Homo sapiens: one gene and its partners. The protein of the gene in region 3 interacts with the protein of the main gene of each other region in a pairwise test. Each region holds a gene or a part of one and is shown on either strand. Other genes may lie near its edges.

Region 1 (3,500 bases), on a different chromosome or scaffold from region 3:
CAAACTCAGGGAGCAGGTATTTCCGTTCACCTGCGCCTTCAAGAACCTGAGCTCAAAGCGCTGCAATGACTGGCCAGGGACTAGCAGCGGCTCAGTGGTGGGTGGGCTGGGACTTGGGGTTCTTGATTAAGACATGGGGTCCTGAGGGGAGGGACCAGGAAGGGTGGCCTTGAGAAGGACATCCCTGCCAGCCTCAGGCAGTGGGCTTCTAGGGGGAGACTAGGGCTGAGGAGCCAGCCAGGTGGCGGCTGAGGGTCACCCAAAGATGGCTGAAGGGGAGAGGGCCCGCTGCATCCCCTTGGGCCAGAGCCCACAGGCCAGGCCCTGAGGATCTTAGGCTGCACCAGGCTTGCCGGACACAGGCTCATTGTCTCTAGGGCTTTCTGTCTTGCTGTAACGTCTCTCCAGCCAGCTGCAGCTCCTGCTGACTTATCCCACCCCAGCGCAGGTCATCCAACGGTGACTTATGGCCCCGGCCTCCTGGCTCGATGAGGGTATGTTGCTTCTGTTTCTACCTCTCTGAGTTCTTTTCCTCGGAGCAAGTGACCCTGATGGGATGGCCATGGGTGTACAAGGATACTTGTGTCATGGGTGGCTTTGCAGTTCTGTGTTCCTAAGTGTGCTGTGCAGTGATTCGTGCTGCCCTGGTTCACAGTGGCACGTTTGTGTGTCTGTGGATCTGTAGGTGTGTCTGTGAGTTTTAAAAAATATCTCACATTCTCTGTATTTGCATAGACAGTTTTGCAGGTGTTCTCACGTAGTTTTGTGTCTTTGAACTTTTGTTTACTTAGCTGTATTTAGATATGATTGTATCTGGGTGTGTTTGTGTGTGGTTTAGCATTTACATCAGTTTCTTATGTCCCTATGATCATATATTTAAATTAAAAACATCTGCTATTAACTGAAATCAGAGGCAGAGAATACCATTGCCTGGTCCTGAGGGATTTCTTAATAGTGACAGAAGACTGGAGCCTGAGGAGCCACCTCTTGGGTCCTCCATTGTTTCATTCACTCATCCGTTCATTCATTCAATACACATTACACACCTTCTGCATATGAGGGACGCGCAGGTGTGGGAGCAAGCCCCCGCTCCCTGGGGCTAACCTGAGTGAGGGGTCTCACAGGGAGAGAGGACTGGGTGAGGACATAGCAGTCAGGTATGGGCTGCAGGAGGGCAGGGAGGCGCTGGGGACCCGGTGGAGTTGAGAAGGATGAGGCTATAGAAAGGGGCAGCATGGCAGGGAGGCATTGGCTGGGCATGGGCTGGGACTGGAGAGGCCAGTTTCTGTGGGGGTCTCCTATGGAAGACCAGCTGAGCTGTGCCCAGCAAGTGAGGACCTGCTGGGACCTCAGGGCTGAGAAGGGCCTGATACTGGGCCTTTGGCTGGGGTTTGGGGAGCTGCCCCCACCCCCAAAAGCCTTAGCGCCTAGTGGCGGATCCTGCTCCCGCTCCACTAGCAGCAGATGATACCTGTGGCATGGTCTGCTTCTGACTGCCCGACCTGGGGCGCTGAGGCTGTGAGAGCTGTGCTGGGCTGGTGGGAGGTTCCAGGGGCGGCGATGGGGAGGACCTTGCCTCTTTCTGGCCTGTGGCCTTTCTCCTCCCCCAGCTGCTGTCTGGCCGCCCCACCCCCAAGTCTCTGCCACAACCAAAGCTCCTTTGTTGCCTCCCCCTGCCCCGGGCCTCTCCACCTGCTGCTAGCTCAATCCCCTCTTTGTGTGGTTGGTCTTCAGTTGTCATGGCAGCTGGGCCCAGGCTGAGGCCTGCCCACTGTGAGGCTCTTAACTGAACTGCAGCCTGACCCGGTGCGCGGAGGGCCGGGCCAGGGCCAGGCGTGGGAAGGGGGCCCCTGTGTGTCCTGCTCCCCTCAGAGCCCGAGGGGCAGCAGAGAGGAAAGGTGGTCCGGTAGGGGCCCGGGGGCCCTTGTGCGATAGACAAAGCGGCCTTCCAAGACTTGGTGTGGGCACTGGTGGGAGATGGCGCATCTGGCCCTTGATGCCTGTCTTCCAGCCGGGGCGCTTTGCTGGGCAGCCTGCTCACCTGGCTCCTGGGTGTCTCCAGGTGGCTGAGGACATGTCAGGATGGTAGGTTAGGAGGGGCCCGCCATGCACAGAGCAGAGTGAAAGGCAGAATAGGAGAGAAGCTTAGGGTGGGGACGTGTGTGTCTGGCCAGCCTGGAACATGACACATGGAGGGCTTTCCTGGATTTTGTCTGTAGGACACCTGCTGTGCCATTTCCCAGACATAGCCCACCTGAGCACACAGGTAGAGGCGGGTCCCCAAAGACTTGGCCTCCCCTCATTCCTGTCCTCTGTGTTTCCCCCTTTGAATTTCTCACTTCTTCCTCTTGGGTCCTCTTCCTTCTGTCTCCATTTCTGTTCTTACGTAAGCCACAGGCTGCTTCCCCTCGAGCCCTGGTATGGCCCGAGACAGAGGCACCGAGGCTTGAGGGAGGAGCTGCTCTGGGAGGTCCCGGACAGTGGAAGGCCTGCTACTACCTGGAGTGGCTGTTAGGTCCTAATACCTCTTGGGAGGCAGGGTGGGTGAAGTAGGACTGTCTTTGATTTGCCTTGGGGGTCTCGCTCTGTGGAGACCCAGGCCCATCCTTCTGTCCTCCTGAATTTGTGGCCTGGGCTCTGCCCTCCTCGGTCTGAGTTCCCCTTACCAAGGTGGCTTCTCTGTCCACTAGCCCCTCTGCGCCTCTTCAGGTGGATGTTAAGTCCAGTTGGTGAGAGGTTTCCCAAGATGTGGCATGCAGAAGCTCACAGAGTGGCCCCAAGGGAGGAGGGTGGCGAGGGAGGGAGGAGCCCCCAGCACCCATCAGAGCCCCACCAGGGGCTCCTCCCGCCCCCTTCCCCACTGCTCGCCTTTTCTCTGCACCACAAGCAGGTTCTGTAAGAAACCATGGTAGGCATGCGTACAGGCCCCTGTTGGGGAAATAGAATTGAAAACAAAATCTCTTGCCAACCCAGAAAAGCTCTTTGCAAAAGTAGAAGAGAAAAACAGCTTTTAAAAGATTGAATGTGCATGAAACCAGAATGTGGTGCGCACCATGGACAATCCCCCGAGCAACTGCAAAGACGGGAGCTCTGAGCCTGCAATACCCCAAGCGACTGCAAAGACGGGAGCTCTGAGCCTGCAATACCCCGAGTGACTGCAAAGACGGGAGCTCTGAGCCTGCAATACCCCGAATGACTGCAAAGACGGGAGCTCTGAGCCTGCAATCCCTGAGTAACTGCAAAGACGGAAGCTCTCAGCCTGCATGTAGCCGGCAGGTGCAGCCCGTTACAGACATGTTCTCAGGATAAACAGCAACCAGCCCTCCAGCAAGAGGACTGGACATTACCATTTGTCACACGCAGGCAGGTCGTCCTAAATTCACCTCATAATTGGAGTGACCATCTGTGTTAGCTAATTGCCTTTACCCACAGGAAAAATAAAGTTCTTATATTTTTATGACAGGAGATAGTTTTGTGATTTGGAGCCAGGCACCTGCTGA
Region 2 (3,500 bases), on a different chromosome or scaffold from region 3:
CCCATTCTCTTCCTAAAGCAAGAGGTGGGACTGAGTTGTCCTTATCTCCCTCAACTGGCAGCTTCTCCTCCCAGCCTCTCCTCCCTGGAGCGGCCTTATTATCCAGGTGCCTGAGTTGTTATTCCAAAGATAAGTGTCCAGTTTGGGGCAATAGGTCATTGAAATGGAACTCCTGTGTGACAGGAAGTGGGGGCTTTGGAAAGTCTGAGCCTGAGGAGGATGGAGTTGCCAGGCTGTGACCCTTCAATGAATCCAGGGAGGCTGTTGGGGCTTCTTTGAAGGATGGGTGAGAGAGTCATCTAGGGGAGGGTATTTGCTCACAGGGATGAGGTCCCTGGGGCTCTTAAGCTACTGGGCTTCTGGTGGAGTGACAGCCTGGGGTGTCCTGGCTTCTGCCTTCCCTGCCTTCTCACCTGCCCCTTCAGACTCCGATCCACTCCCGGATCAGTCTTCTCCAAATCCATCCCCTTGCTCTTCCCCTGGATCTTCGAATGGCTTGTTCCCTTCCTTCATTTAGATCACCTCCTCAGGGAAACCCTCTTGAACTCATATCTAAAAATACCTCTTTCTACCCTGGTCACTCTCTAATTTCTTATCCTGCCCCCCTACGTTTAATAGCCACCATCACTACTGGAACCAAATTGTATGTTCACGTGCTTAATTTCTGTCTCCCACCCTGGAATCTAAAGCATTTGTTGCTTCTTGGGTGGTTATGTGTGTGCGGTGCTTAGAATACAGCTGGGTGCATAGTGAGGGCTGGAGCAATGTTTTGGGAAGGATGACTGACTGAAAAAAGGACCATCCTCTGCAGTGTGGTCTCCAAATGCTCTCGTGCTGGGCTTTTTCAGGCTTCAGAGTCTGAGAGTGGATTAGGAGAGGGAAACACTTGAAGTTTGTTCGTGCATTTGTTTATTCTCTTGTTCGTTCAACAACAACTCACTGAGAGACTCTTGCTGTGGGTCCTGGGGAGCCAGAGAGCAATCATTAGTGGTATGGCAGGAAGAAGGTCTTGCCAAACCCTGAATTCAAAGAAGAGGAGGGGTAGGGTAGAGGATGTAAGAAATTGAGAAGGAGCCGTGAGGTAATGGGGCAGGAGGAGGAAGAAGGTGGGTTCTCTTTCCAGGACAGAGCCTTCTGAGGATGCCAGAGCTGGGTGCAGGCTGTTGGCAAGAGAGTCAGGGTGTATGAAGAGCCGAGGAGTGGGCTGGGCAGGGCAGGCCTCTGCCTTGTTTGGAGGTGGGGAGTCTGGCCAGCCCAATGGTGCTCCTTCCCAGATGTTGGCCTGTTTCTCCCCAGGTGCAGGAGTGCCTGCAGCAGTTCAAGGTGACAAGGGCACAGCTACAGCAGATCCAAGCCAGCCTCTTGGGTTCCATGGAGCAGGCGCTGAGGGGACAGGCCAGCCCTGCCCCTGCGGTCCGGATGCTGCCTACATACGTGGGGTCCACCCCACATGGCACTGGTGGGTATCATAGATTGAGATGCGTGGCCAGGCCTGGAAGAGGGTACTGATCTAGGGGAGGGAAACGTTCCTTATTCCTGTCCCCCATCTCTATGGCCCCTTGACCAGACTTTGCAGGCCTTAGGAATTTGGGAAGTGGGCAGAGGGCTCTGGTCTTGCCAGCTGCATGGCTTTCTGTGACCTGCTTGCCCTCCAGAGCAAGGAGACTTCGTGGTGCTGGAGCTGGGGGCCACAGGGGCCTCACTGCGTGTTTTGTGGGTGACTCTAACTGGCATTGAGGGGCATAGGGTGGAGCCCAGAAGCCAGGAGTTTGTGATCCCCCAAGAGGTGATGCTGGGTGCTGGCCAGCAGGTAAGCACTCACTGCCCAGCCTCTGGGGTCTGGGGGCCTGGCTGGGTGGCTAGGGCTCAGATGGGCAAGGCTGAGCCCCCCCACTTCTCCTGCAGCTCTTTGACTTTGCTGCCCACTGCCTGTCTGAGTTCCTGGATGCGCAGCCTGTGAACAAACAGGGTCTGCAGCTTGGCTTCAGCTTCTCTTTCCCTTGTCACCAGACGGGCTTGGACAGGGTGAGGTGGAGTGGACATGGGACGCTGGGTAGAGGGTGGCTGCAGCCCCATGAAGGCCGTCAGAGGAGTAACCCAGCTTCTCTACCTCCAGAGCACCCTCATTTCCTGGACCAAAGGTTTTAGGTGCAGTGGTGTGGAAGGCCAGGATGTGGTCCAGCTGCTGAGAGATGCCATTCGGAGGCAGGGGGTGAGTGGAGGGAGGGGTGACAGGAGGGCTGCCCATGTTGGCCTGGGCCTGGCACACATGCGTTGGGTCTGGGCTTCTGAGAGAGTTGCTTTCCTCTTCTCTTCATGTCCTCCATCCAGTTTAACCTCCATCCAGTTTAACCTATACATGGTACATGTTGCTACCATTCCCATTGTATAGGTTAAAAAACACTGAGGCTAAGAAAGGTCAAATAAACATTCAGGACCTGGGGCAAAAAAACATGAATAGACTTTGACCTCCTCCTCAAGGTTTTCACAGTCTAGATGGGGAAGCATTCTAATAAAAGATTGTCCGTGTCAAGGAGGAGTGCGTGGACAACTCTGGGAGCACTACGGAGGAAGCACTGGCTCTTTGATCAGGGGCTTGAAGGAGGAGTTTGCCTCCCTTCAAGTCAGGCTGGGGCTGGGGCGGATGATCTAGTCTCAGAGAAGGCCACACACAAGAGTCTGGATGCTGGACAAAGGCTGATCCGTCTGGGCTAACCTCTTGTGGTGAGAAGCCAGTGCTGGGAGGAACAGGCTTGGGGAGCCAGGCAGGATGACAGTGAGGCTGGCAAGGCGCAGAGTTCAAGGAGGTGCTCAGTCTCAGGAAACTCATCCTGGTCCTGGGAGATGGTGAGGGTGGACGTCACTGTGACCTGGGGGCGCAAGTTGGGGGTTAGGGAGGAGCTGAGGGTGGGATTGGAGGAAAAGTTCCTATAAGGTGGGAGCCCAGAGCATCTGTGGCACAAATGTGTGTGGCATGCAGACATGTGTTTCATGGACTCTATGTATCTCCTTCAAAGCCAGGGCCCCAGCCCTGCCCATCCCCTGGATTCCCTCCTCTGGCCACTCAGGCCAGCCTTGACCTCTGCCCTCTTCATCATCTAGGCCTACAACATCGACGTGGTTGCTGTGGTGAACGACACAGTGGGCACCATGATGGGCTGTGAGCCGGGGGTCAGGCCGTGTGAGGTTGGGCTAGTTGTAGGTGAGCCATGGACCATTTGTGATGACAGGTGGAGGGTGTGCTGCCTGGCTAGCAGGCCTTGACAGGGTTGTCTCTGCCAGACACGGGCACCAACGCGTGTTACATGGAGGAGGCACGGCATGTGGCAGTGCTGGACGAAGACCGGGGCCGCGTCTGCGTCAGCGTCGAGTGGGGCTCCTTCAGCGATGATGGGGCGCTGGGACCAGTGCTGACCACCTTCGACCATACCCTGGACCATGAGTCCCTGAATCCTGGTGCTCAGAGGTGACCTGGCAGGGGGCCCTGACCTTTGGTTCCA
Region 3 (3,500 bases):
TGCTGGGAATAGAGGCACGAGCCACCACGCCAGCTCATTAGCTATATTTTTGATATTTTGATTAATTACTTGATATACCAATATACCATTTTCCAACTCTTACCTCTAGTTTGTGGTGTCTTTTTCTTTTTCCTCGTTTTTTTGAGACAAGGTCTCACCCTTTTGCCCAGGCTGGAGTGCAGCGGTACGATCATAGCTCACTGCAGCCTCAACCTCCTGGCCTCAAGTGACCCTCTCACCTCAGCCTCCTGAGTAGCTGGGACAATAGACATATGCCACCATGCCCAGCTAACTTTTTGACTTTTTTTTTTTTTTTATATAGAGATGAGGTCTCACTATGTTGCCCAGGCTGGTCTGAAACTCCAAGACTCAAGAGATCCTCCCACCTCGGCCTCCCAAAGTGCTGGGATTATAGGCATGAGCCACTTTGTCCAGCCAATCATTTATGTTTTAGGTACATCCCAAATAACAGCTAAATTTTGATTATTTATCCAATCTAAGAGTCTCTTTCAGGCTAAAATTTTAGTCTCTTTCTTATAATCACTGATATAATTAAATTTATTTTTACTATGTAAATTTGTGTTTTTTTTATCATGCTCCCTTGTTTCTACTGGGCTGGCGAAGTTTTCTCTAAACATCTTGAAGCCACTCCCTACTGGTCTGCAGGGATTATGTTGTTTATGTTCCCTTAGTAGTTGTATAACAGTTAATATTATAGTGGAGAAATCTGGCAGACATCATCTTAACTAAGCAATTAAAGTTGCCACCACCAGCATTGAGACAAGCAGATTTTAGGACCACTTGATACAATGCACGGAGGAGGACACACCATCTTTCTATGTCATGACTGCCAAAAATGCATACATTGAATCCCTAACTGCAAGGAAAACATCAGGCAAACCCCAACTGAGGGATATTTCTGTAAGATAAAATGCTCCTACTCTTCCAAAATGTCAAGAATGTGGAAAACAATGAAAATCGGAGGATTTCCACATCAAAGTAGAATGAATACAACCTAATCTTTGGATTCGACTATGCACATACAGTATGCACAAAAAATTAAATTTTGCTATTAAAGACATTAGTGAGACAATTAGCAAAATTTGAATAAAGTGTTCATATTAAATAACAGTACTATATGAACACAAATTTCCCAACTGTGATAACTATACGGTGGTTATGTGACAGTGTGTCCTTAATTTTACAAAATACACATAGAAAGTTGGTAGTAAAGGAGTATCTGTCTGCAACAGATATTCAAATGGTTCAGAAGAAAGTGTGAGGGGTGAAGAGGAAGAGAGACACAAAATGATAAAGCAAATATAGTAAAATATTTACAGTCAGGAATCTGAATGAAGCATACAGGGAATTATGGGGTACTATTTTTGTAACTTTTTTCTAAGTCTCAATTTCAAAAATGAGTTATAATTCTGCTCTGGTCTACTAGTGCTTTCCCTACTTGCTAAAACCAGCAAGTTTTTCCTCTTTTCACCTAGGTAATAAATGGTGAGGAATGTTTCTTAGTTAAGTCATAATGCCTTATTACAGAAGTATATACTAATCTGAAATAAAGATCATTCTGTCAGGAAAGTACATACCTCCATTACAAGCTGGTGGGCACGAGAAACCAGTGTGAGACCATTGGCATGGTTAAAGGTTTCAGAAATGTCTTGTCCAAATGTGTAGCCAGCACCACGTGGTGAAATACCCCATCCACCACGATCATCTGGATCTGACCATAACAGATCACACATTGGGCCCTGGCCAAGAAAAATAAGTACATGTTACAAATTATTATCAGTCATACTTTATCATCCTCAAAATGTGGTTATATTTTCTTTTCCTTTCTTCTTCTTTTTTAAATTAAGTTTACCTCATGTGGAACTTCCTGTAAACGATCCAGGGCTCTTATATGATCCAGTGTGTCTATGGATGGAGAGAGGCCACCATGGAGGCAGAATATCTATGTATGAATTAACAAAAGAGAATGTATTTGTTTTACTAACTCCAAACAGTTAACAAAGAGTAAATAATGGTTAAAAGTGTCAGTCCAAATAGTGCCAACATTTAAACATATTTTGTCCATCATTTTTTCTTCTTTACCCCTTCTCTGGTCAATGGTATCCCCATCCTTGGGGACCCACCATTAAATTTCTTTTTTTTTTTTTCCCCTCCCTCCCTCCCTTCCTTTTCTCTGGTCAATGGTATCCCCATCCTTGGTACCTACCATTAAATTTCTTTCTTTCTTTTTTTTCTCCCTCCCCACTTCCCTCCTTTCTTTTCTTTCTGTAGAGATGGAGTCTTGCTGTGCTGCTGAGGATGGAGAGCAGTAGCTATTCACAGCCTTGATCACTGCGCAATGCAGCCATGAACTCCTGGGCCCAAGCAATCCTCCTGCCTCAGCCTCCTGGGAAGCTAGGATTACAGGTGCATGCCACTGTACCCAGCTGTCATTACAGCTTCTGTTGGTTATTGCTGATATATACAATTTTTTGTTTCTCTTACAGCAAACACTCTGATTCCTGTTACTGGCTACAATAAATTTTCAGTTCCTTCATATTTTCTAAGTACATAATCAAGTCATTTGCAAAACTATTTTTGTTTTTTCTTCTCAATGTTTATACGTTTTAATTCTTTTTATTGCTTAGTGCATTGGCCAGGACTTCTAAAATAAAATGGAATAATACAAATGTTTTCTGTTTTGTTTTTTGTAAACTACCTAGTTTCAAGTCCATGCTCTAGGTATTCTGAATCAGAGAGAATAACGTAAGTTTTAACAAGCATTTTCTTTCTGATTTTGATTTTTTTTTTTTTTTTTTTTGAGACGGAGTTTCGCTCTTGTTGCCCAGTGCAATGGCGTGATCTCGGCTCACCGCAACCTCCGCCTTCCGGGTTCAAGCAATTCTCCTGCCTGAGCCTCCTGAGTAGCTGGGTTTACAGACATGTGCCACCATGCCTGGCTAATTTTGTATTTTTAGTAGAGACAGGGTTTCTCCATGTTGGCCAGGCTGGTCTTGAACTCCCAACCTCAGGTGATCCGCCCGCCTTGGCCTCCCAAAGTGCTGGGATTACAGGCATGAGCCACCTCACCTGGCCTGATGAGAAGGTTTCTAATGTTTAGCTGATAGTACAACTGGCGTTTCTTTATCCACTTAATATTATTATTTTATAAAATAACTGAGTTTTGAATCATAAATATAGGAATTTTTTTTCCAAATGACTTTGGTCTGATTTTATTTTTCTGTGCGTGCCACGTCTGGTTTGGCATTGAGGTTATACTAGGCATACGGTGTGAGTTTTGAACTCTCCATCTTTTCCCAAGTTCTAGAACACAGAAATTATATGTTCCTTAAAGGTTTGGTAGAATTAGCCTATAAAACTATTTACACCTGGTTGCTATTGGTTGTTTACTTATATTGGACGAATTTCTGCAAGCCAATTTTAATAACTGGTATTTTACTATAGTAAGCTTCATTCAGCTTTTCAAACTTAGTGCACTA
Region 4 (3,500 bases), on a different chromosome or scaffold from region 3:
AACTGGCATCTCATTCCCCTTTTCTAAGACAGGAAGGACGGTCAGAGATGATTCCAACATGAGGACTTTGCTAGTTGCAGTGTCTGACTCCTCCCATTCTCATAGCAGTTTTGCACAGTAGTTTTGGTTTGTGTGTATGTTTTAGGCAATGTGACAAAGCAGTTTTCCTCCTGCCTCCTTGAGAAATTTAATCCTGACAGGTTCTTTAAGAAATCAGCTTGATGTGGGCTGATTTTAAAAGAATAAATGAAAAAAAAAAGCTGGTGACTGATAGCTGTTTTATTGGTCTTGTAGTGTTTTGGTTTTGTTTTATCTTCACTTTCTTGTTTCCTGGTGAATAATAACTGGGTTTATTATCTCTCATGGCTAATCCTTAAGCCTGATTCCTTACCTGTTCCATCCAGAGTACAAAGTATATTTTGACTCCTCTTTAAACTGCTTGTTAGATTCTCATATGAGTGACTTTAAATATTTTTGTTTTGCTTCAGGACAACGGGAAAACCAAACGATTATGTTTTGTTTGCAGACAGTTTACGAAAACAGCAAATTGGTTTATGGTTAGACCGTGACTTTGAGCTGACTTCAAGTTGGGCCCCACGATAAAGATAACCATGGAATACCCAAGCTTTCCTAAGCAGAGAGGATCCTGGCTTCCAAATGAGCAATTTTGGTCAGCAAAGGGGTTATTTAGCTCCTAAAAGTAATTTTTGCTTGAGGTTGGGGCTGAGGCAGAGTGGCTGAACAACCGTAGGCCTGGGTGTAGCCAGAGGATCATCAGTAATTACTTCTCAGTTCATTCACTTCTTGGGCTAGGGAATTATTTTGAGTGCAGGATAAGAGGCAATTTTCTGTGTGTTTCCCTTCTAATATAATGCCACTGATGATATTATAATTAATAGGTAACATTATGCATGACAGGCACTGTGTGCTAAGGGTTTTAATGCATTATTTCATTTGGCCATTTCAGAAATACCAAGAGGTAGGTGCTGTTCTTGTTTATTTGTTTGTTTTTTTTTTTGATAGGGAGTCCCACTCTGTCACCCAGGCTGGAGTGCAATGGTGCAATCTTGGCTCACCGCAACCTCCACCTCCTGGGTTCAAGTGATTCTCTTACCTCAGCCTCCCGAGTAGCTGGGATTACAGGCGTATGCCGCCATACCTGGCTACTTTTTGTATTTTTAGTAGAGATGGGGTTTCACCATGTTGGCCAGGCTGGTCTTGAACTCCTGACCGTAGGTGATCTGCCTGCCTTGGCCTCACAAAGTGCAGGGATTATAGGCGTGAGCCACTGTGCCCGGCCTTTTTTTTTTTTTGAGATGAAGTCTAGCTCTGTTGCCAGGCTGGAGTACGGTGGTGTGATCTTGGTTCACTGCAACCTCCGCCTCCTGGGTTCCAGGGATTCTCCTGCCTCAGCCTCCCAAGTACCTGGGATTACAGGCACGTGCCGCCATGCCCAGTTAATTTTTGGATTTTTATTAGAGACAGGGTTTCAGCATGTTGGCCAGGATGGTCTTGATCTCCTGACCTCATGATCTGCCCACCTCGGCCTCCCAAAGTGTTGGGATTACAGGCGTGAGCCACCGTGCCCGGCCTGTTTTTGTTTTTAAGAGACAGGGTCTTGCTTTGTCACCCAGGCTGGAGTGCAGTGGTACAAACGTAATTCACTGCAATCTCAACCTCCTGGGCTCAAGGGCTCCTCTCGTTTTAGCCTCTCAAGTATCTGGGACTAAAGGCGTGTGCTACCATTCCTGGCTAATTTTTTTTTTTAATAGAGATGGTGTCTCGCTATGTTGCCCAGTCTGGTCTTGAACCTCTGGGCTCAAGTGATCTGCCCACCTTGGCTCCCCAAAGTGTTGGGATTACAGGCATGAACCACTGCACCCAGCCATGTTTTTATTTTATCTGAGAGAAAACTGAGGTTCAGAACTTAACTGTATACTTCTGGAATCTTCACAGAGAAATAAAAAAAAAGAAAAATAATTTACTATAGATTCATTAACTACTACGTGGCGGAGCCAGGGCTGATGTCTCCACTGCCCCAATTTACCATCCTGTGCTGTAAAAAGTCATGGAGAAGGTTTTCTGTGTGCAGCTAAGAGAGGAGGTGGCAGACATTTATTTATTTATTTATTTATTTATTTATTTATTTATTTATTTATTGAGACGAAGTCTCACTCTGTTGCCTGGGCTGGAGTGCTGTGGCACGATCTCGGCTCACTGCAACCTCCATCTCCCGGGTTCAAGCGATTCTCCTGCCTCAGCCTGCTGAGTAGCTGGGATTACAGACGTGCGCTACCATGCGCAGCTAATTTTTGTATTTTTAGTAGAGATGAGGTTTCGCCATGTTGACCAGGCTGGTCTTGAACTCCCAACCTCAGGTGATCCGCCCACCTCGGCCTCCCAAAGTGCTGGGATTACAGGCCTGAGCCACCGCACCTGGCCCAGACATTTTTTAGACAGTCTTGCTGTGTTGCCCAGGCTGGACTCGAACTCCTGGGTCCAGTTGACATCCCTCTTCATCCTTCCAAGTAGCCAGGACTGCAGGGACATGCTACCTTTATTTTGGGTTCTTTGTGTCCTAAACCCTGTATGATCTGCTCCATTTGTAACACAGAGAACCCAGGTGCCCTCTTTCCTGCTTATATTTCTTTGGGGCCTCAGTTTACAAGGCAAGTCTGCCTTTGTGGAGATAGACTGGGGTCTGGGATGGAAAGACCTGGGTTTGGGTCTTTGCTCTGCCACTGCATAAACTCAGCAAGTCACTTAACCTCTGTGACTTCTCATTTCCTTATCTGGAAAATGGGACTAACACTTCCTGCTTCACTGGGTGGTTGAGAGGATCAAATAAGATAGAAAAGGAATTGCTACGTAACACCTAAAGCAAGGCCCAACTGCTAGTTGTGGCTGCTGCTGTTACTTGGAGAGAAGAAATGAGGCCCCAGATCATTAGTTCATATGACAATTTTTTCTTTTTTTAAGACGGAGTCTCACTCTGTTGCTTAGGCTGGAGTGCAGTGGCGTGATCTCCACTTACTGCAACCTCCGCCTCCCGGGTTCAAGCAATTCTACTGCCTTAGTCTCCTGAGTAGCTGGGACTACAGGCACGCTCCGTCATGTCTGGCTAGTTTTTGTATTTTAGTTGAGACGGGGTTTCACCACATTGGCCAGGCTGGTCTTTAACTCCTGACCTCAGGTGATCCACCTGCCTTGGCCTCCCAAAGTGCTGGGATTACAGTCTGAGCCACCACGCCTGGCCCATATGACAAATATTTATGAAGTGTTTTCCACAGAGTAGTATGGAATAACTCTGGGTGTGTGCAAGATGAACTGAGCTCAGTCACAATACTTTTTTTTCCCCTAATGTTAAGAATTATTGGCTGGGCAGGGTGACTCATTCCTTTAATCTCAGCACTTTGGAAGGCAGAGGTGGGAGGATCAGGTGAGCCCAGGAGTTTGAGACCAGCCTGGATGACAAAGTGAGACCTTGTCTATACAAAAAA
Region 5 (3,500 bases), about 13 Mb from region 3:
GCTATTTGGTCAAAAGGTCAAATTATTTTGCATAGATAATAGCAAATATTTGGATGCATAATCTCCAAAATCAGATAATCTCATGTTCCTGAGTAACATAGATACACAAGATGTGATAGCTTAGAAGGATCAGACAAGTAGCTCTGTTTGTCTAAATTCCATAGGATTTACAGATGGTTATTGTCATTTCTGGTAGCTTGAATTCCTGTTACATGATACACAGAATACCAAATTAGACCTTAATCCAGAGGTTCATTAATTTCACAGGCATTAAAGTATTTATGGGGCACAGATTTCTTGGGCATGATAATGGTGGGCTTTTCTTTCTTTCTTTCTTTCTTTTTTTGAGAGAGAGTCTTGCTCTGTCACCCAGACTGCAGTGCAGTGGTACAATCATAGCTCATCATAAACTCGGACTTGTGGGCTCAAGTCTCGGTCTCAGTCTCAGTCTCCAGGCATTGGAGTGCAGTGGTGTGATCTCGGCTCACTGTAACCTCCGCCTCCCGGGTTCAAGCAGTTCTTGTGCCTCAGCCTCCCGAGTGGTAGCTGGGATTACAGGCATGCGCCACCATGCCTGGCTAATTTTGTATTTTTAGTAGAGATGGGGTTTCGCCATGTTGCCCAGGCTGGTCTCAAACTTCTGACCTCAACTGATCCACCTGCGTTGGCCTCCCAAAATGCTGGGATTACAGGCATGAGCCACCACACCTGGCCTACAGTCCCCTATTCATTCTTGTTGAGTGGACACAACTGTGTGGCTGCAAGGGGCTTAGCTGAGATTTTTAGAGTCCGGTGGCCCACCACAGGCAGAACAGTGGGGGCACTCTTCCCTGGATGCAGGCAATAAGGGTGCCTTACTTATAGAGAAGGCAAAAATGACAACAAAAGCAACTTAAAGTCAGTTAGCTTTTTATTATCACTATTTGCCAGCAACTCTCAACAATGTTGGTGATAAAATACTCCTTCCCCAGAGACATTTTGTTGGTGAAATTCTAAATCGTTGCTACAGTTACAGTTGAGTTTTGATAATTTATATGTAAGCTTCAGATTAGTATACACATAATATTTACTCTTTAATAATAAGCATTTTATTCTACCTAGACATCGCCAGCCCCTGACAAATGTAATGTCTGCTTTACCATTTGTTTTGAGAGAAAGTTCACTGTGGTTCAAAATCTTGGCTGGGCAGAGTGGCTCACACCTATAATTGCAGCACTTTGGGAGGCCTACGTGGGAGGGTTGCTTGAGGCCAGGAGTTTGAGACCAGCTTGGGCAACATAGCAAGGCCCCATCTTTAAAAAAAAAAAATTAGCTCAGCATGGTCTCACATATGTGTAGGCCTAGCTACTCAGGAGGCTGAGGCAGGAGGATCACTTGAGCCCAGGAGTTCAAGGCTACAGTGAGCTAGGATCATGCCATTGCATTCCAGCCTGGGTGACAGAGTGAGATTCCGTTTCTAACGTTAAACACAAAATATTTTGCGTGCACTTTCAGCACAGTTTGTGTCCCCAGTCTCTGTGGAGCTACAGATTTCTGTGTTTAAACAGTAGAATCAAAATGAATGGTGACAACATATAGACTGCAAAGTAAACAAACAGCCTTGAATGGCTTCAGTTCTGCTGTTTTGTGTGACTGCTTGGAGACTATGAGACGGTGTGAACTACAGGCAGTAATATTTTTGTTTTCTAAGGGCAAATTTTAGCTCATACATGAACTGTTTTGCTGAATTTGAATAATATCTTTGGAGCTGAAATATTTTTTAATGTTTTAAAATTAATCAAAAGATGATAATTACATGACTTTTACTGAAAACAATATTGACATATGAGGAGGGGAGGATTAAAAAGTTATCTTCTCTAGAGTTACCTAAAAGCTATGAGGGCTGGGCATGGTGGCTCACTCCTGTAATCCCAGCACTTTGGGAGGCCAAGGCAGGTGGATCACCTGAGGTCAGGACTTCGAGACCAGCCTGACCAACGTGCTGAGACCCTGTCTCCATGTCTCTACTAAAAATACAAAAATGAGTTGGGTGTGGCGGCGGGCACCTGTAATCTCAGCTACTCAGGGTGCTCAGGCAAGAGAATCACTTGAACCTGGGAGGTGGAGGTTGCAGTGAGCTGAGATTATGCCACTGCCCTCCAACCTGGGCAATAGAGTAAGAATCTGTCTCAAAAAAAAAAAAAAGTTATTGGCCTCAAATATTCCAAAAATGTCATTACTACAGCGCATTTCTCTCTCCTTACGTTTTGCAGTTACTGGCCAACACCTTCCCAAGAACAAGCGTCCAAAAGAACCAGGAGAGAATAGAATCAAACCTACCAACAAGAAGGTGAAGCCCAAAATTCCTAAAATGAAGGACAGGGACTCAGCCAATTCAGCACCAAAGACGCAGTCTATCATGATGCAAGTGCTGGATAAAGGTCGCTTCCAGAAACCCGCCGCTACCCTGAGTCTGCTGGCGGGGCAAACTGTAGAGCTTCGATGTAAAGGGAGTAGAATTGGGTGGAGCTACCCTGCGTATCTGGACACCTTTAAGGATTCTCGCCTCAGGTAAGCATTTTTTTTTAAAACTGTGTAGGGTTGAGGATTTGTAATAGTTAACAAAATTCCTTCTTAACTATTATTACACATTGTTTCTGACATGTTCCATTTTACCCTAATAGATCATAAAAATAGAAGCTCAAAGGGCAAAAGTCACAGATTTTATTTCTTTACCCAGTTAATAACAATTGCAGGCCGGGTGCGGTGGCTCATGCCTGTAATCCCAGCACTTTGGGAGGCCGAGGTGGGCGGATCACGAGGTCAGGAGATCGAGGCTATCCTGGCTAACCCGGTGAAATCCCGTCTCTATTAAAAATACAGAAAATTAGCTGGGCGTGGTGGCAGGTGCCTGTAGTCCCAGCTACTCAGGAGGCTGAGGCAGGAGAATGGTGCGAACCTGGGAGGTGGAGCTTGCATTGAGCCGAGATAGTGCCAGTGCACTCCATCCAGCCTGGGTGACAGAGAGCGAGACTCCATCTCAAAAAAAAAAAAAAAAAAAATTGCAAATCCTACCAACATTTGCTGAAAGAGTGAAATTTTACAGGAAACCATGTGACAAAACCATATGACAATTTTCTATGAAAATGTATGATGTGTGGAATTTTATGGGAAACCAAAATGTTATAGAAAACTATTATGCATAGAGATGGATGTTTAAAAATTCATATTGTGTGGCCAGGTGCAGTGGCTCATGCCTGTAATCCCAGCCCTTTGGGAGGCCAAAGCAGGCAGATCACTTGAGGCCAGGAGTTGGAGATTAGCCTGGCCAACATGGTGAAACCCCGTCTCTACAAGAAATATAAATTAGCCAGATGTGGTAGCATGCACCTGCAATTCCAGTTACTCAGGCAGAGCTGAGGCAGAAGAGTCGCTTGAACCCGGGATGCAGAGGTTACAGTGAGCCGAGTTCGTACCACCGCACTCCAGCCTGGGTGACAGAGTGAAACTCCGTCTCAAAA
Region 6 (3,500 bases), on a different chromosome or scaffold from region 3:
TGAAGAAAACACACTTAGAAACAAGACTTAGACACAGATTGATTCCCAATGGAAAAGAGAAAAACAATAAAGGTTACTGTAATTCAAAAAGGAAATTTGATAATAAAAAATCCCAAACACCCACACATAAGTGTGAGAAAAACAATACGGTTGTTAAGCCCTGTGGCAGCTTTTGAAAAACTATTAAGTAGTATTTGGAACCAGTAGTGAAGTGCAAATGAAGTAGCACTCTTTTTTTTTTTAACATTTGAGGTTATCTCTTTAGGTGTTACCACAAAAATCTGGAAGATCTGGGCCTTGAATTTGTATTTCCAGACACTAGTGATTCTCTGGTCCTTGTGGGAAAAGTACCACTATGTTTTGTGGAAAGAGAAGCCAATGAACTTCGGAGAGGAAGATCTACTGTGACCAAGAGTATTGTGGAGGTAAGACACAGCTGCAGATGTTAAGGAAATTGCTGAGTGATGGTAACCTCATATTTTGTCTGTAGATTCTCTGAATTCATCTTTTCTTCAACAAGTATTCATGGTATTTACCTGCGGTGTGCCAGGAGCTAGAAATTCAGAGATGAGTTAGCTCAAAATAAGGAAGAAGGGCATTTAAAGAATTATAGTCAGTGAACTTTGGCTAGTAGAGGTATGTGTTTTGCTTTCTTCCCAGTGATAAAGGTAATGAAAACTAAGAGTCTAGAATGCACCAAGATAGTTTTTCAGAAGTGTTATGGAAACACAGAATGACTTGTGTGCCTGGGGAGGTGAAGTCAATGAAAATGTCACAGAAAAGCTGTTTTCTTAAGAAAAGTTTTTACTTTTGAGAGACCAGGTCTCACTCTGTTGCCCAAGCTGGAGTGCAGTGGTGCAATCATAGCTCACTGTAGCCTTGATCTCCTGGGCACAAGCAATCTTCCTGCCTCAGCCTCCCAAGTAACTCGGACTACAGACACGCACCACCATGCCTGGCTAATTTTTTCCTTTTTTTTTTTTGTAGAGATGGGGGCCTCACTATGTTGCCCAGGCTGGTCCTGAACTTCTGGCCTCAAGCAATCCCCTTGCATTGGCTTCCCAAACCCCCGGCACTACAGGCATGAGCCACTGCACACAGCCAGAAAAGTCTTACAGAATAGTGGGAAACTAGGCTGGGCAAGGTGGCTCACACCTGTAATGCCAGCACTTTGGGAGGCCGTGGTGGGTGGTTCACCTGAGGTCGGGAGTTCGAGACCAGCCTGACAAGCATGGAAAAACCCCATCTCTACTAAAAATAGAAAATTAGCCGGGCGTGGTGGTGCATGCCTATAATCCCAGCTACTCAGGAGGCTGAGGCAGGAGAATGGCTTGAACCTGGGAGGCGGAGGTTGCATTGAGCCAAGATTGCACCATTGTACTCCAGCCTGGGCAACAAGAGTGAAACTCTGTCTCAAAAAAAAAAAGAAAAAAAGAATAGTGGGAAAGTGCTGAGTACAGAAGAGGGGAGAAGGGCATTCTAGACAGAGGAATACATATCAGAGACTTGAGATACATCCTATGTTTAGGGAACTATCAATAGATATGGCTCAAATTAAGATCTACAGTTGATCCTTGGATAACTTGGGTCTGAACTGCGCAGGTACACTTAAATGCAGATTTTCTTTCACCTCTGCCATTCCTGAGACAGCAAGACCAACCTTTCCTCTTCTTCCTCCTCCTTAGCCTATTCAATGTGAAAATGATGAGGGTGAAGACCTTTATGATGATTCATTTCCACTTAATGAATAATAAATATATTTTCTGTTTCTTATGATTTTCTTAACATTTTCTTTTTCTTTCTTTCTTTCTTTCTTTCTTTTTTTTTTTTTTTTGCGATGCCCAGGCTGGAGTGCAATGGCACAATCTCAGCTCACTGCAACCTCCACCTCCCGGGTTAAAGCGATTCTCCTACCTCAGCCTCCCAAGTAGCTGGGATTACAGGCGCACACCACCATGCCCCGGCTAATTTTTGTATTTTTAGTAGAGATGGGGTCTCACCATGTTGGCCAAGCTGGTATTGAACTCCTGACCTCAAATGATCCACCTGCCTTGGCCTCCCAAAGTGCTGGGATTACAGGCATGAGCCACTACGCCTGGCCAACATTTTCTTTTCTCTAGCTTACTTAATTGTAAGAATACAGTGTGTAATATATACAACACACAAAATATGTGTTAATCAACTGTTTATATTATTGGTAATGCTTCTGATCAACGTTAGGCTATTGGTAGTTAAGATTTGGGGAAATCAGGCCAGGTGCAGTGGCTCACGCCTGTAATCCCAGCATTTTGGGAGGCCAAGGCGGGCGGATCATTTGAGGTCTGGAGTTCAAGACCAGCCTGGCCAACATGATGAGACCCCGTCTCTACTAAAAATTAAAAAATTAGCCAGGCATGATGGTATGTGCCTGTAATCCCAGCTACTTGGGAGGCTGAGGCATGAGAATTGCTTGAACCCGGAAGGTGGAGGTTGCAGTGATCCAAGATCACTGCACTGCACTCCAGCCTGAGTGACACAGTAAGACTCCGTCTCAAAAAAAAAAAAAAAAAAATTGGGGGGAAATCAGAAGTTATACTTGGATCTTTGACTGGATGGGAGTTGGCTAGATGGGTTGTCAAGGTCAAATCATAAAATAATTTAGCATATTCTACTAAGTAGTTTGCATTTTATCCTATAGGCAGCCAGTGAAAACTTTTAAGCAGGAGAGTAAGGTCCATTTTAGATTGCATTCCAAATATGATTACTTTACATATATGTTTTGGTAAAGGTTTGGAAAGCTACTGCTGGGCTGTGGCATTGGAGGTATTAGAGAGAACTATTACTTTTTATTTTGATTACTTATATGTTTCTTTTTTTATAGCAAATATCATTTATTTTGTCTTTATTGTCTTTTTCCTCTCCTTTCCTGTTTTCTATTATAGTTTTCTGTATTTCTCTTTTTTTTTTTGCTCTACTCGTTTAGAAGTTATATATTCCATTTATATCCTTTTAGAGATTAGCCTTAACTTTTAGCATGCATACTTATCAAAGTTTAAAAGTAATTCACTTCTCTATCCTCTTCCTAACTGTACCAAAATCTTACAAACTGTTCATCTCCCATCACCCTCCTCCCATCTTCCATGTTGCTGTCTAGTACTTTAATTCCACCTTGTTTTTAATTCCCTGGTGGTCATTTATTTTATAGTCAATCTTTATTTAGATTAAAAAAAGTGTTCACCAGAGTCTTTGTTCACCATTGCCTCTTGCATCCTACTTATTCTGTGTTCTTTTGGGTTTTTTTTTTTTTTTTTTTTTTTTTTTTTTACTGAAGTAAATCTCTTACAAGATCTTTTATCCACAAACAGATCTTGAGACAAAAAATACAAAAATATAAAAATAAATAGAAGTTATTTTAGTAAGAGTCCGTGGGCCAGGCATGGTGGCTCATGCCTGTAATCCCAGCACTTTGGGAGGCCAAGGCGGGCAGATCACCTGAGGTCAGGAGTTTTGAGACCAGCCTG
Region 7 (3,986 bases), on a different chromosome or scaffold from region 3:
AAGGCTCTGTGGGGACCCGGGCATAAGCCTTCCCTCAGTTCCTTCAGTGCCACTCAGGCCTGGCTGCGAAGATACAGATGGTATATGCGAATTACATATAAGTAACTATATGCAAAATTATTTTTCCCTGGTGTGTCATTGTGCCAGCGTGTTTGGATTAGAAGTGATTTCCAGGAATCCTTCCCTGCGTCTTCTAGCTTCTGGGGGCTCTTGGCCTTTCTGGACTTTCATGGATCATGACCACATCACTCTAATTTCTGCCTCTGTGTTCCAGCACCTCACCCCCTGTGTGTTGTGTCTTCTCTTCTCTCTGCTGTGAGGACAATTGTCATTGGATTTGGGGCCTATCCAGATATACCAAGATGATCTCATCTCAAATTCTTTTACTTCATTACATCTGCAAAGAGCCTTTTTCCAAATAAGATCAAGTTCACAGGATCTAGGGATTTCTATATGGACCTATCTTTCTTGGGGGCCAACATAACCCCCTACATGGTATAGGTGAAATAAGATTATTTGCAATTGATGAATCCAGGTGATGAATACTTTCAGATTTGTTATATTATGGGCAATTTGAGTGACGCAAAGAGGATAGCATATGCAAATAGGGTCTCTGGATTTGTCAGATAAAATACAGGATACCCACCTAAATGTGAATTTCAGATAAACAATAAATAATATTTCAGTATAATCTGGTTTCATACCGTGTTTGGAACATAGCTATAACTAAAAAATTGTTGATTGTTTGCCTGAAATTCACATTTACATGGATGTCCTATATTTTATTTGGCAACCCAGTAAGAAAACGGTGGCATCAGCTTGCCCTTCACAGACATCCTCTCCCAGCTATGCTCACAATAGAGATTTTTCAGTTGCCCTAGTCTTTGCACCCAACTCATGAAAAAAAGCATCTTTAAAAAGCCAGTTTCTGCTGACTTGCAAAAAGAGCAAAATCTCGGTGAAATGTATTGTGTAAACTTTGATTGCCAACCTTGAAAAGGAACACATTAACCAGTGTCTTCTGATAAGCAGATCACTTGCCTCATGTCTTAGAATCCAGTAGGTGGCCCCTTGGCCATGAAATGTGTGGGAGTGGCTTTTCCCTAACTTGACTCTTCTTTCAGTGGGAGAGAACTATTGAGAGGAACAAAGAGCTTATAAATACATTAGGACCTGGAATTCAGTTGTCGAGCCAGGACGGTGACAGCGTTTAACAAAGTAAGTACTGATCTTATAAATTTCTCTACATTGCCTCACACCCTCCTCTCTAGCCTCCTAGAAAAATATGCTAATATGTGTCCTTAGCACAAGGAAAAGTCTGTTTTTACTCATATTGTGCCGTCTTGGTGTGCTTGGGTGACAGTTCAAGAATTGTTTATTTCTTTTCTGTTGGATACATCTTTACAGAATTGTAAAAATGAAGAATTTAGAAAACCAGGGCTTCAGCATTTAATGGTATGGGAAACAATGACATGAAGAGAAAAAAGAAATGGTAGCATTTTAAACAATCTGAGAATAATCAGTGCTGGAAGAAGTGGCAATGTATGCAAAAATTTATTTCTCTGTGTAAGTAGTCAACACACAATTGTAAATTGTGACACTGTAATTCTATATTGGCTGTGAAAATACAAAACTCAGGTTTAGTATAATTAGAATAAATTAGTTTGAATGTCAGGAGAACTAGATTCTAGTTGAGCCTTTGCCACTAATTAGCTCAAAGACAAGTCATATTCTGTCTCTGGAGTTCTACCAACTCATGGCCAATATAGAGGATAGCTAAGAAAGAGGCTCCGACTGTTGCTGCCCTTTAAACTGTGTAATTCTTTGAATGGAGATCTGTCCTGCTCACTCTAGGATGTTTCTAGGCATCCCTGGCCTCTACCTATCTGATTTGTAACCCCCTTTCCCTCCCCGCAGATATGACAACCCAAAATGTCTCTAGACCTTGCTCAATGTCCTCTGGAGCAGAGGAGCAAAATCCCCCTGGTTGAGAACCATGGGACTACATGACCTCATGGGGCTAAGCAAGGCTGTGTTACTGATGTGCCCCACTGCTTGGACATTCACTGAAAATTTCCTGTTAATCCAGGTGGACTGATTAGTGAATATCAATATCTTCTGTACAGGAGCTAAAAAGGAAAGAGAGAGAGAAACAGAGAGCCATCATATGACAGATTTGATATAAGTCTGGATTCATATAAAATCTTATTCCTACTCGAGTTCTATGAACAAAATATAGAGAACCAGAGAAATGGATACAAGACAGATAATAGATGATGAAGAGACAGATTACAAAGAGATAGATACATAGAACGATTGATAGATAAAATAATACATACATGGATGGGTAGACAGAGATTATAAATAGATACATATACATAGATTGTTGGTCAGTAAAATAATTGATGGATAGATAGATCAAAGAAAGAGGATCCATGGGCTACTCAATATGTCCAGAGACTCACCCATCTTCCAAGCACTGGGACAAGAGCAAACACCCATTGCTGTGTTCCTACTATGAATTTTTTGTACATTATCTCATTTAACTTTCTCAACAACCCTCAAAAGTAGAAATAACTATCTCTATTCTAAGAAGAGAAAATTGAGGCTCAGAGATTAAACAACCTACTGCATTTATGAATCTCATAATGGAAGGAGTCATAGTTTATCTCATTCTCCCTTCTCTCTGATAAGAAACAGTGTCATTGGGACCACCTCAGAGATGTAAATGTAACTCCTTTAATTTACTCCTGGAATTATGAGAGCTTATATTCCTTTCAAAACAAGCCCATTTTTTAATTGATGTAAGTTAATTATTGATGTAAAGTAATTATACTAGTCCTCAACTCACTCTGATTTTTAGGTTGTCAAATCAGAGAAAGTCACAGTTTTATCAATTTTTTCTTCCAAGCAAGCCCCTGAAAAGTTGCTAACAGGAGGAACTCAGGAATTAGATGTTCCCCTCTCGTCCTCTCCTTCCAACATTTATTTGGCTAATATATATTTAATAGGAAAATACAAAACAACTTCTCAGACAGGAGCTGAGAGCCAGGTTATGAGGTGGAGTGGAAAAGCTCTGGACCTGCAATCAGAAGTTAAGGCTGACCCAACACTCACCAAGTGTGCAGCATGAGACAGGTGCTTTAGCTCTCTGAAACTCAGTGTGCCCATCTTTAATTTGGATAATAGGAGCCATTTCCCAGGGTTGTTGCGGAAGGTAAACACACTCCCTAGATATTGACTATGAATGAGGAGCATGTGTGTGTGACCCATGGCAAATCCTTGAGCTCTCTGGTTCTCATTTTCTGTTGACCCAACAAAGCTCAATGGTAACCTATGTCTCAGTCTTAGCCTGACCCTTGGAAACCTCACATTGAGAAAGTGATATGCTAGTTATCAGCAGGAGTGTTGTGATAAAATATTATGTAAGATAAAATTTCACTTCCTTTTGAAACATGATCCTCAATCAATGGCTAAGAGAGTTTAGTTTGGGGATTGGAATTACAACACTGTGAACTCTAGTCGATAACAATTAAACAAGCATACCCCATGCTTTCATCTGAACTTCACTCTCCCTTTCACTCTGTCAAATTATGCTATTTCCATTTCCCAAGTTACTTTAAATTGCTCCTGGAGTTATCATAGAAAGTACAATGTCAAAATATCTCATGACAAAACAGGTGAGTTGATTCAGTATGATTTCAAAGAATTCTTTACTTTCCAAAGGTTAATTATTGACTCCCATATTTTAAAATGAGACATTTAAAAGATTTTGATGCCTAATTTTAGTCATACATACCTTTTTAGAAATACATTAGTTGAGGCCGGGTGCAGTGGCTCACTCCTGTAATCCCAGCACTTCGGGAGGCTGAGGCGAGTGGATCACCTGAGGTCAGGCGTTCCAGACCAGACTGTCCAACATGCTGAAACCCTGTCTCCACTAAAAATACAAAATTATCCGGGTGTGGTGGCACATGCCTGTAATC

What was found.
Region 1: the proteins of PPP2CB (region 3) and ZNF775 interact in a two-hybrid assay, tested with the Homo sapiens proteins (one large-scale study listed by BioGRID and IntAct).
Region 2: the proteins of PPP2CB (region 3) and HK3 interact in a two-hybrid assay, tested with the Homo sapiens proteins (one large-scale study listed by BioGRID and IntAct).
Region 4: the proteins of PPP2CB (region 3) and PTPRJ interact in a two-hybrid assay, tested with the Homo sapiens proteins (one large-scale study listed by BioGRID and IntAct).
Region 5: the proteins of PPP2CB (region 3) and PDGFRL interact in a two-hybrid assay, tested with the Homo sapiens proteins (one large-scale study listed by BioGRID and IntAct).
Region 6: the proteins of PPP2CB (region 3) and MLH3 interact in a two-hybrid assay, tested with the Homo sapiens proteins (one large-scale study listed by BioGRID and IntAct).
Region 7: the proteins of PPP2CB (region 3) and GSTA1 interact in a two-hybrid assay, tested with the Homo sapiens proteins (one large-scale study listed by BioGRID and IntAct).

The regions. Positions count from the first base shown.
Region 1 is NC_000007.14:150,382,330-150,385,829, forward strand, and holds part of ZNF775 (zinc finger protein 775), read left to right. Parts: exon of another isoform or gene 1-494; intron 495-1,471; exon of another isoform or gene 1,472-1,662; intron 1,663-3,500. UniProt on the Homo sapiens protein: May be involved in transcriptional regulation.
Region 2 is NC_000005.10:176,889,347-176,892,846, reverse strand, and holds part of HK3 (hexokinase-3), read left to right. Parts: intron 1-1,296; coding exon 1,297-1,459; intron 1,460-1,655; coding exon 1,656-1,810; intron 1,811-1,905; coding exon 1,906-2,025; intron 2,026-2,116; coding exon 2,117-2,212; intron 2,213-3,102; coding exon 3,103-3,202; intron 3,203-3,282; coding exon 3,283-3,466; intron 3,467-3,500. UniProt on the Homo sapiens protein: Catalyzes the phosphorylation of hexose, such as D-glucose and D-fructose, to hexose 6-phosphate (D-glucose 6-phosphate and D-fructose 6-phosphate, respectively).
Region 3 is NC_000008.11:30,792,319-30,795,818, forward strand, and holds part of PPP2CB (serine/threonine-protein phosphatase 2A catalytic subunit beta isoform), read right to left. Parts: intron 1,964-3,500; coding exon 1,874-1,963; intron 1,761-1,873; coding exon 1,599-1,760; intron 1-1,598.
Region 4 is NC_000011.10:47,983,559-47,987,058, forward strand, and holds part of PTPRJ (receptor-type tyrosine-protein phosphatase eta isoform 1 precursor), read left to right. Parts: intron 1-3,500. UniProt on the Homo sapiens protein: Tyrosine phosphatase which dephosphorylates or contributes to the dephosphorylation of CTNND1, FLT3, PDGFRB, MET, KDR, LYN, SRC, MAPK1, MAPK3, EGFR, TJP1, OCLN, PIK3R1 and PIK3R2. Plays a role in cell adhesion, migration, proliferation and differentiation.
Region 5 is NC_000008.11:17,587,216-17,590,715, forward strand, and holds part of PDGFRL (platelet-derived growth factor receptor-like protein precursor), read left to right. Parts: intron 1-2,252; coding exon 2,253-2,550; intron 2,551-3,500.
Region 6 is NC_000014.9:75,027,468-75,030,967, reverse strand, and holds part of MLH3 (DNA mismatch repair protein Mlh3), read left to right. Parts: intron 1-252; coding exon of another isoform or gene 253-265; coding exon 266-425; exon of another isoform or gene 426-426; intron 427-3,500. UniProt on the Homo sapiens protein: Probably involved in the repair of mismatches in DNA.
Region 7 is NC_000006.12:52,801,017-52,805,002, reverse strand, and holds the start of GSTA1 (glutathione S-transferase A1), read left to right. Parts: upstream 1-1,186; 5' UTR 1,187-1,218; intron 1,219-3,986. UniProt on the Homo sapiens protein: Glutathione S-transferase that catalyzes the nucleophilic attack of the sulfur atom of glutathione on the electrophilic groups of a wide range of exogenous and endogenous compounds.